Linked DNA regions of Homo sapiens. The protein of the gene in region 3 purifies or fractionates together with the protein of the main gene of each other region. This does not show direct contact. Each region holds a gene or a part of one and is shown on either strand. Other genes may lie near its edges. The genes, in order: DIDO1, SAFB and CAPN13.

Region 1 (3,649 bases), on a different chromosome or scaffold from region 3:
CTAACATTTTAAGTGTTAACCCATCCAAACGAGAGGTTAAAAAAAGATGTGTTTAAATCAACACAATTTTCCATGGTTGCAGAATTTATACTATAAGCAGGTACCTTAGACACAGAAGACTTGAGTTTGCCAACATAATCCCAAACTGTCTTCGGTGCGATCCTCCCACCAATGTGAATTGTGTCAGGCAAATCCTAAACAGAAAGTACTTTGCGTAAATCACTTTGAACTGTAGTAGTCACAGAAAGACGAATGCAGCCATGTGAAGGCACACACTACCCAAGATTCAAGAAGACTACAGCTATTCCAAGGAAAAGAGTCACACTTGTATTAAATGCATTAAGTCCAGGATGACAAGTGGCCAAATCCAAAGGGGGAGTGATGCCAACCTTCTGCCAGACAAGATTATGTTTAGAAATGACTGCCCAACACTTCTATGCTGTCTTTACGTACATACACAGAGAGTAACGATTCACTATGAGCCAGGGTGACTCCTTGCATTAAAGTCATAAATGCTAGTGCTGTCTTCTGGTTAATTCTGAAAACTAAAAGGCCTGCCACGGGGTCATATGCGCCACCCCGCAAGTGGCCAGGTGTGTGTAAAGCAGGCTCCGAACACCTGGCTGTGCCGGTGGCTGTGCGCACAGCCATGTGGTCAGTGCCCCAGCGAAACCGATCACTGAGAGGCCAGACTGCAGGCTCACATTTCCGACCCTGTCCAAACTGCTGAACCTGCGGACTCATCACGGCCATCGCCACTTTGCATTTAGAGCCGTTTCTGCATCCAGACAGACGGTTGCAAGAGTGTCAGGCATTTCTGTTTCTCTCCTACCTCATGAATTAAGGGAGAAAGTCATGTGTTTGACTCTAGTTTAGAAACTCCTATGAAAGACACACACACGCACACACATTTTCTTGGTTCTAACCTCACTGAGGTAATCAAAACACCCAGAGACAGGATACGCCTTAGTGACAAATTTTGCCACACTCTGCATGTTAATAAATCCTTTCCAAATGGTGCTGAGTCGAGACAAAAAGAGGGTCGTGTCTCCCTCTGGAGGGGAACGTGATTCTGAAGTGCTGTAAAACAAAACCATAAAAAAAAAGTCAATGTCTCTCTGTGCAATGAGAATTTCAAAAGTAGAAAGCCTTTTTTTTTTTTGAGACAGGATCTCATTCTGTCATGCAGGCTGGAGTGCGGTGGTGCAACACAGCTGGCTGCAGTCTCCGCCTCCCAGGCTCAGGTGATCCTCCCACCTCAGCCTTTCAAGTAGCTGGGACTACACGCGTGCATTACCACACCTAGCTAATTTTTGTCTTTTTTGTAGAGATGGAGTTTTGCCATGTTGCTCAGGCTGGTTTCAAACTCCTGGGCTCAAGCACATGCTGGGATGACAGGTGTGAGCCACTGTGCCCGGCTTCAAGAGTACAAAGACTTTATATGTAAAAGCAAAAGTGAACGCTTGCAAGTTTTACGTTTTTGGTAGCTTACTTTTGCCAATTACTTACTTTAATTAAAATGATACAGACATTTTGGTTAAAGAAAAATAAAGTGAATAGGCAACAAAACTGGATGAGCACAAATTTAAATGTCAATTTCTAAGATCTCTACTTCCAAAAGGACAATAAGGCACCCTACAACTGGGGCTTTTTAAAAGATGAAAGAGTGAAGCTGTATTTCAGGTTACATTTCCAAGTTCAACTATTTAATCACCAGTTATCTTTCCTTTCGTTAATCTAAAAAAAAAGTTTGGCTTGTTCAGACCACACCTGAAGTACGCACCTGATATTTGGTGACGGAGGAACTGACAGGTATCTTGGGTCAGGAGATGAGGATGGCTTAGCTAGTATGGACTTGGGCACCATCACAGAAGTCAAGACAGGCTTCGGCACATCCTGTCTGGCTTCCACCATGTGGGTGCTGTCTGGGCGGGATGCTGCGGAGGCCACGGCTGTGCATGAACTGCTTGGAGCGGTCCTGGGGTCCCGGCCGGACACTGTGACGGTGGTGACCACCCCGCTCCCACAGGAGGCTGGGCAGGGGGACAGGTCTTCCAGCGGGGAGGGCTCGGGATGGCCATCTCCTGGAGGCCCAGGGAAATACGTTCTGTCCACATTTGGATGAGAAGCACTTTCTAGGCCTGGCTCAGAGGCAACTTCAGGCACAGCCTCCGGCATCACCTCATCAGCTGAATCCGGAGCTGGGTCAGGTGCAGAGCTGTCATGCTTTGATTTTAAGTCTTCTTTCTTAACAGAAGCTGACAATTTTTGTTTTTTCGGAGCTGGCTCATCTTCTGCGGAGGGAACCTGGCCTGAAGAAGGCGAGGAAAGGCTCTGTGAGAAACCCAGCCGGCACACTGGTGTTTCTCACACAAAGCCGAAAGCAATACTCTAAAGGCAGGGCAGGAAATCATTCTGGCCCTTCTGCGTGTTTAAGCTTACGTGCGGTTGCTTTTAGGAGGTTCAGTGATTTTTAACAAAATCAAGTTTAGTCTCAGCTCCAAGGCTCCATCCCCTGCACTGTGCTCACCTGTGCAAATTTTACAGTTGAGATCGAAGAGGTGTGCGCGGTGCTGACTGGTGGTGTCTTTCAACATGCTGCTGAAGACGTCGAGAAGCGGCGCTGTGCTCTTCTCAGGGACAGCACGTGCTGACTCTTGCTGTTCCTAAAAAAGAAAAAGAAAAAAAAGTGAGGTCGTTTCTTCTCCAAACTCAGCTCCAAATTAACCACACACAAGAAAAGCAGTCTCATGGGATTGAGACCCACGGGGGAGAAAAAAGGACCATCTAATACAAGGACTGAGGAATGCCACAATGACATACACCTGCTGTAAGCTCAGGTCCTGCCCAATAATTTAAGATAACCTCAAAACATTTGGGATGGATTAGTCTATTCTCGGTGAACACAAAATCTCCCAAATGCTTACCTCTGAATCCGACACTGGCGGAGAGTCCTCCAGATCGGGGATGGCCTCCTGCCTGGGGGCCGTCTTCTTGCTTTCATTGTGCAGTTTAGTTCTGGACTCCATCACCTGAAATGAAAAAGACGAAACAGAGCTTAGGCCTTGTTTTCTAGGAGGAAAGCATCGCTTATGCAGCCGTCTATGAATTTATTTCTATTAAGCTCGAGTCCTGGGTGCCTCCGCAGGTACCCCTCAGCACTCACAGATCTCGCTGGCCTCTCTTTCCACGTGGAAAGCTCTTTAGATACAAGTTCTTCTGGCTTCAGTCTCACAAGTTTCGCCAAAGAGATTTCCTCACGCAGAACACGATGGAAGAGTCCCTATAAACAAGTATTTTTCATTTACTCAAATAATATTCCTATATCTGTCAATACAGAGAGCTTCTGGAAAACACAGCTGCCCAGAAGTTTAGCGGGCACAGGACAAAGGCCCTCAGGGCCCACTTGCGTGTGGCACTGGGCAGAGCCCTCCCTGCAGGGTGTGACCTAACTCCCCAAACGGCCTTATGAGAGTGCGCCCCAGGATATCCCTGCTGTGAGCAAATGGGAGCCCAGAGAGCACAGGTAATAAGGTTCAACAGTGGGTTTCACGGCCTGTGCTGCACTGGCTCTGCTAAAAAAAAAACAACACACAACACCTCAGGAAAAACAATTATGTACACAAGGTGGACACAAGTCAAAAAGGTA
Region 2 (3,649 bases), on a different chromosome or scaffold from region 3:
AACCTAGACTTTTCTAGTGCTTTACTTTTCTCTTTCCTCATTTTGCCTCTTGCTCAAAGAAAGGGCAGGAAGAAGGCACGCTGAAGGGAAAAGAACCCATTCTATGGGAAATTCTGTGGCTACCACTGTAGCTTCAGACTTACCTGTCCTTCTCGTTCTCCCATCATTGACCTTGAACCTTCTCTCCTGAAAAGGCAATTTAAATCAAACCGTAAGGGGAAGAAGAGGCTTGTTCACAAAGAGAGGACCATCAGGCCCCCAATGAAAAGCATAATTTCCCTAACTGAAGGCAGGAGACCTGCGGGTCTGACTCAGCATACATCTGATGAACGGAGTGGGTTCAGAGAGCCCAGGAGTCCTTGTTCTCAGTCAGAATGAGCCAGGAAAAAGAAAACCCGCACGCCCAGCAGGGGCCCAACTGACCTGTCCACCGAGTGGTCGGGGTAGCGGCCGCGGTCCCTGTGGTCAAAGTCGTGGAAGCGGTCCTGGCGGTTAAAGTCAGAATGGTAGCGCTCATCCAGGGCGGCCCGCTTGGCTTCCGGCCAATAGGCATCATCTCGCCTGTGAGGGGACATGAGACAGAGATAGAGGGATCCCCCACCCCAAATGTATCTATCACCTTTGTGGGAGCTGGCCCCTAGCACTTCACAGAACCAGGATGACTTTCACCAAGAGTGTTCTCTCCTATAGGAGGCAAGGTCTGATTTGACCCCAGTGACTGCACAGTTGTTTTGTTTTGTCCCATGCACCCACCTCCCCTGATGAAAAGCGGCCTCGGTTTTCCAAAGAGGGAGCCATTAGTTAAGCAGTCAGTCCTATGGGCTGCCTGCAGATGGCTTCTGGAGCCCTACACAGCCACCTCCGCTCAGGAAGACCACGTGAGCCTCCACCCCGAGGGGCTCTGTCAAGTGCACCTGCCATCTCTCTCGCCCCAAAGCTGACCTCCTGCCCTGCCAGCAGCCCTGGCCATGTACTGCTGCAATACACAGATGACCATAATGAACTGTCATCAGAAGGATTTCGTACCAAAGCATAATAGATCCTAGAACAGTTTACAAGGCCCTTTATAGAAGTTGCATTGTATATATGACCTGGGCTCCTCTTCAACCCATGCAATAGAAAGAAACAACAAACAGCAATTTTTGCCAGGTTGCAGTGCACGTGTAAAGCCTGACACAATCACTGCTGGAATTACACACCTGACTCCTCACAGCAGCCATGCTCAGCATTTTGTGTTCATACCTCCTCTTCAGTATGTTTGAGAAATTAAAATTAATCTTACTGCCGGGCGTAGTGGCTCATGCCTGTAATCCCAGCACTTTGGGAGGCCAAGGTGGGTGGATCACCTGAGGTCAGGAGTTTGACAGCCTGGCCAACATGGTGAAACCCGGTATCTACTAAAAATGCAAAAAATTAGCCGGGTGTGGTAGCACATGCCTATAATCCTAGCTACTTGGGAGAGTGAAGCAGGAGAATTGCTTGAACCCAGGAGGCGGAAGCTGCAGTGAGCTGAGATCACGCCATTGCACTCCAGCCTGGGCAACGAAAGCAAAACTCCGTCTCAAAAAAAAATTTTTTTTTAATTCTTTATTTCTAGAATAAGCAAAAACAAATTACAATGGATTTAAAAAGCCAGGACAAGGCCGGGGGTGGTGGCTTACGCCTGTAATCCCAGCACTTTGGGAGTCTGAGGTGGGTGGATCACCTGAGGTCAGGAGTTTGAGATCAGCCTGACCAACATGGCAAAACCCCATCTCTACTAAAAAAAACAAAAATTAGCCGGGTGTGGTGGTGGGTGCCTGTAATCTCGAATACTAGGGAGGCTGAGGCAGGAGAATCGCTTGAACCCAGGAGGTGGAGGTTGCAGTGAGCAGCGATCGCGCCATTGCACTCCAGCCTGGGCAACAGAGCGAGACTCTATCTCAAAAAAAAAAAAAAAGGAAAGGGCCTTAAAGGAGGTGCAGTAGGGCACGTGTGGCGCTCTCTACGTGCCTGAGCTTCCCTCCTCAGGAGGTCTGTGCCACCCTTGAACCTGGTTAGTTAACCAGCACTACTTTATCCAGCCTCCTGTCTCTAATTTTTTTTTTTTGAGACCGAGTCTCACTCTATTGCCCAGGCTGGAGTGCAGTGGCACGATCTTGGCTCACTGCAACCTCTGCCTCCTGGGTACACGCGATTTTCCTGCCTCAACCTCCCCAGTAGCTGGGATTACAGGCGCCTGTCACCACGACCAATTTTTTGTATTTTAGTAGAGACGGGGTTCTGCCATGTTGGCCAGGCTGGTCTTCAACTCCTGAGCTAAGGCAATCCGCCCACCCTGGCCTCCCAAAATGTTAGGATTACAGGCGTGAACTAGCGCACCCGGCCTATGCTTCCTTTGAATGAAAGATCTCAAGCTGGCCGGTCGCGGTGGCTCACAGCTGTAATCCCAGCATTTTGGGAGGCCGAGGCAGGTGGATCACGAGGTCAGGAGATAGAGACCATCCTGGCTAACACAGTGAAACCCCGTCTCTACTGAAAATACAAAAAAATTAGCCGGGAGAGGTGGCAAACGCCTGTAGTCCCAGCTACTCGGGAGGCTGAGGCAGGAGAATGGTGTGAACCCGGGAGGCAGAGCTTGCAGTGAGCCAAGATCGGGTCACTGCACTCCAGCCTCCGCGACAAAGCAAGACTCCGTCTCAAAAAAAAAAAAAAAAATCTCAAGCTAACTGGACTGTGAGGTCCCTAACACGATTCTGAACGCCACGTGCTAAGGGCAGCATGGATCTGCTTACCGGTCCAGGTCGTAGGGCCGCCGCACCGCGGGCCGCCGCTCCTGCTCATAGCGCAGTTCCTGCTGGCGCCTCAGCTCCTCGCGCTCACGGTGGATGCGCTCCTGCTCGCGCCTGCGCTCGTGCTCCACGTGCATGCGTTCGCGCTCCAGCCGTTCCCGCTCCATGCGCTCCCGCTCCAGCCGCTGGCGCTGGAAGGCCAGCCTCTCTCGGGCAATCTCCAGCCGCTCACGCTCCTCGCGCTCCCACTGCGCCTGCATGCGTTGTTCGCGTTCACTGCGTTCACGCACCCTGCTGCACAACAGTAGAGCTGCAGAAGGGGACCTAGACACCCCCAGCCAGGTCCCAGGGCTGACTTTAAGTAAGACGCTGGGTCGCACAGACTCCAGGGCTGTGCGTCCACTACGTGGTCTGCAGAACCGTACACTCCAGCGGGAAGAAGGCTTCTCGGGCCCACAGGAGCAGCCCAGGAAGATCTCAGGAGTGAGGCCCAGGCTGTGTGTGTGTGATCAGAACTGGGCCTCCTTTCTCCAACATTTCCTGGAGCTTGACAAGTGATTTCAGGAAACAGCCAGTCAAAAATAAGCAACAGGCCGGGCGCGGTGGCTCACATCTGTAATGCCAGCACTTTGGGAGGCTGAGGTGGGTGGATCATGAGGTCAAGAGATCGAGACCAGCCTGGCCAACATGGTGAAACTCTTGTCTCTACTAAAAATACAAAAATTAGCTGGGCATGGTGGCACGCACGCACCTGTAGTCCCAGCTACTCCGGAGGCTGAGGCAGGAAAATCACTGGAGCCCGTGAGGCAGAGGTTGCAGTGAGCCACTGCACTCCAGCCCGGCAACAGAAAAAAAAAAAAAAAAAAAAAAAAAAGCCA
Region 3 (3,649 bases):
GAGTGCTTCTCTCAATGCCCATCCCAACCCTCCACTTCATAGCTGGGATGTCAGGGACCAGAGTCAGATCCTGACCCCCGCTCTGTGGCTGGGCCACCACTGTCACAGGCAGGCTCCCCTGGAAGGCCTGGAGGTGCTGTAATCACTCTTTGTTGTCTGTGGCCACATCTTGCTCCTCTCTTTCATCTGTGGTCCCCAGGCAGATGCACCTCCCTCTTGGTGGCTCAGCACTCTCAGCCATGGGCAGAGAGGTGGGTCTGAGTGCCTGTGAGGATAGGTATTCCAAACTCCACCTGTCTTTCTCCATCCTTCCTCATATGGGCAAGTCACCTTTCACCAATCCTGAGCCAGATGATCTGTTTAGGAGGGTGGCAGTTTCTTGCAAGACGGGCTCAAGGATGTACCTTGAAGCTGCATTTGGAGAGCATGCATCCTGCTTATGGAGGATTTGGGGACTGACTACTTTAGGAGGCTAAAGATCTTTCCAAGGTACCCCTTAGTGCTGCTCTCATCTTAAATAAAAAGGAACCATCTCCATCAATCTTCTCTATCAGAGGCCACGGGCCTGAGGATGGTTTCACTTGAATGTTAGCAAGAGAACAGCTCAAAGGGTCGAAGCTTCAGACCAGGACACCTAACTATTCTCCTGCTTTGTGAACCTGTTTGGGGATTCTAGGCCTGTGTCTGATGTAAGACTTAGCGAGACTGAATTTGCAGCCACTGAACACGTGGAGGCCATGGGCGTTGGAAGTGGCCTAACACTCCACCAGCAGACAGCAGCAGAGGCGCAGGGCAAGGACGACGCTGAGCCATACCTGTGAGCCAGCCTGTTGGAAACAGGGAGAAAGGCAGATTTAGGAACTCAGACGTAAACAAAAAGGCAAGCAGAACCGAACAGCTTGGCTCATTGGTTTCATCCCTGCATTCCTTCTCCTTTTCTTCCTCTCTTTTAAAGAATTTATTTTATATCTGTTATGCCATAAAGCATTTTTTTTTTTTTTTTTTTTTTTTGAGATGGAGTCTCGCTCTGTCACCCAGGCTGGAGTGCAATGGTGCAATCTCGGCTTACTGCAACCTCCGCCTCCTGGGTTCAAGCAATTCTCCTGCCCAAGCCTTCTGAGTAACTGGGATTAGAGATGTGTGCCACCATGCCTGGCTAATTTTTGTTTTTAGTAGAGACGGGGTTTCACCGTGTTGGTCAGGCTGGTCTTGAACTCCCGACCTCAGGATCTGCCTGCCTTGGCCTTCCAAAATCCTGGGGTTATAGGCGTGAACCACTGTGCCTGGCCACCACAAAGGATGTTTTAAACACTGACATATCACTGTCTAACAAGATGAAGTAAAGACAAAAGAAATTTTTCTTATTAGAAACAAGATACACCATCACTTAGAGTCTTCAAACACTATTGCACTCTAACTTTCATGACTCAACAAAGCATTCATGGACCAATCTGCAGACGAGTTTTAACAGACACATAAAGCTGTAAGCAGACATGACTGTTCTAAATTTATTAGGTATGAATTTTACAAACGTTACTTATATCTGTGATAACATTAGAGCTGGAGAATATTGCACCTTCTCCAAGTTGCATGGTGAGAACCACCAATAGCGTGGTAGAACTTACGGCCCTTTCCAAGGCCATGGCTCTTGCAGCCTGAGGATGTCAGCCCACACATCTCCCCATGCTTGTGGATAGATTTGGTGATCTGCTGGGTGTCAAGATTTCCTCTGATAGTTTTATGGAATGGATCAATGAGGATAACCTCAAAAAATTTATAAGTGGAACACGTTCCTCTTCCTTGTGTGGCCTGCCTGTTCCTTGGCACACCTAGAGGTGAACTGGGATGACTGGTCACTCATGCTCTGTGTGAGGTTGTGAAAAATGAAACCCACTCAATTGCAGAGAACAGCAAGAGGAAGGAAACTGAGGCAGAAAAGGAGGTGTCTGAGAGGAGGAGGTATTCTTTGGTCAGCCCTGAAAGGTGTGGTTACTCTTCACAGCAATGATGATCGCACTGAAAGGAAGGGGGAGATTTTGACAGATAGCACAGAACCTGGCGCAAATGTAAGCTCCCTAACATCGGGAGCTTCCCTGAGAAGTCAACTTCTTTTATTCTATCAGGCCACTGTAAATAGATGGGAATTCGTTCTTGCACTCCCACCCCTGATGCTTGTAGGAATGTCTGTGTGCCTATGAATGGGGAGATACCCATGTTCCAGTCTTTTCACGTAGTAGAAGGAATACCTGAGAATGCAGTTCCATTGTAAGCCTCTCTACGGTTTGCAAAGCACTTTTATGTAATGTGTTGGATATTCACAATAATCCTGCAAGCCGATGCTGGGCTCCCTATTTTATGGGTGTAGAAACTGAGGCTCAGCAGTTTAAGTAGCAGAGCTGGGAATCGGGGAAGCTGTGCTGCTTGCTTTGTAGTCAAGCCCTGTCACCACCAGGTGATGTCTTCCTTAGTTGGCTTGATTATTTCCCATTGTTGACACTGGGCCCCACCCATGTGTACAGACCTCTTAGCCGACTTCTCTGGAGGCCAAGGGTGAGCTGGGAGGAAGGTGGAAAGTCCAGGCCTTGGGGAGGAACTTTGAGGGAGGTGAGGATGAAATGGCTCATCCACCCTCATCCTTTTCACTGTCCTGTCTTCTCCCTGCCTATTCATATCCCATCAAGGTCTGGTTGGACATAAAGCAGAGCAGTGCTCCCACAGCAACTGGGGAGTCACAGACCCATGCCAGGGCTGGAGCATCATCATATCAGCAGGTCAGCACTGGAGCCCTGGAACTCCATTTGAGCCCTGGAGCCTTCTGAGAGCCTGGCTGCTGGCAGGTACATTGTTGTTTCTCAGCTGAACTGTGAAAGCAACCAGTGTCATTTGAGTTGTCCAGGTCTGAACTGTTCTTTGACATTTAACTCAATCAGGATCTTGCAAGATCTGCTGGGATCTCCAGGAAGCCTGAGGAGCTCTTGGGTCTGAGAGTTCCTTCAGCAAATTGGTGAATGGTGAGAAGTAACACATCTCTGGCAGAAAAGTAGGAAAGTGGGCTTGATGTCATTTTAAAAATGGGGTGGTTACAATCTTGGTAGGGTTCCTGAACTGTGAAGACTTTGGGTGAATCAACACAAGGCCCATGGTCACCCATGTGAACAGAGCCTCAGAAGTTGCGTGTGTGCCGGGGCAGCTCTGATCCTTCTGTGGGCTTCTGTCTTAGCTCAGAAGAAGGAAGAGTTGGCTGAGATGTTTCTAGTAGGCCTCTTTGGTGCTTGACCTGGTCAGTCCTGGCTGGGCAGACCAGGGGCCTCAGTTCCTTCTCAGCCTTTCACAAATCTCTCCTTCTGCCTTTAGCCTTTTCTTCCCAGAGGTGAGAGCTGGAAAATCTGAGGGTCCTCTTAGAAGGCACCAGAGTCAGCAGGAATTCTCGTCTGAAAGCCCTGGAAACTATCTCAGGCTGGGGTGGGCTGAAAGATGCTTCTTGGAAGGACAGCTCACAACGTCGATGGGATGCTAGAAAATGCAGTGCAGAGGTGGGCAGGGGCCAGACAAGATGGCTACACAGCAAATAATCCTCAGCTGTTCCCACCTGTTTTGGTTATTTCCTTGAATGCCAAGGCTCTGAGTGACTGAGTGTGTGTGTGTGTGA

What was found.
Region 1: the proteins of CAPN13 (region 3) and DIDO1 purify together in Homo sapiens (affinity purification with mass spectrometry; one large-scale study listed by BioGRID and IntAct). This does not show direct contact.
Region 2: the proteins of CAPN13 (region 3) and SAFB purify together in Homo sapiens (affinity purification with mass spectrometry; one large-scale study listed by BioGRID and IntAct). This does not show direct contact.

The regions. Positions count from the first base shown.
Region 1 is NC_000020.11:62,891,883-62,895,531, forward strand, and holds part of DIDO1 (death-inducer obliterator 1), read right to left. Parts: intron 3,284-3,649; coding exon 3,167-3,283; intron 3,033-3,166; coding exon 2,928-3,032; intron 2,667-2,927; coding exon 2,531-2,666; intron 2,313-2,530; coding exon 1,784-2,312; intron 1,081-1,783; coding exon 927-1,080; intron 195-926; coding exon 105-194; intron 1-104. UniProt on the Homo sapiens protein: Putative transcription factor, weakly pro-apoptotic when overexpressed. Tumor suppressor. Required for early embryonic stem cell development.
Region 2 is NC_000019.10:5,660,934-5,664,582, reverse strand, and holds part of SAFB (scaffold attachment factor B1), read right to left. Parts: intron 3,066-3,649; coding exon 2,775-3,065; intron 562-2,774; coding exon 424-561; intron 187-423; coding exon 144-186; intron 1-143. UniProt on the Homo sapiens protein: Binds to scaffold/matrix attachment region (S/MAR) DNA and forms a molecular assembly point to allow the formation of a 'transcriptosomal' complex (consisting of SR proteins and RNA polymerase II) coupling transcription and RNA processing.
Region 3 is NC_000002.12:30,744,908-30,748,556, forward strand, and holds part of CAPN13 (calpain-13), read right to left. Parts: intron 3,514-3,649; coding exon of another isoform or gene 3,448-3,513; exon of another isoform or gene 1,495-3,447; intron 828-1,494; coding exon 816-827; intron 1-815.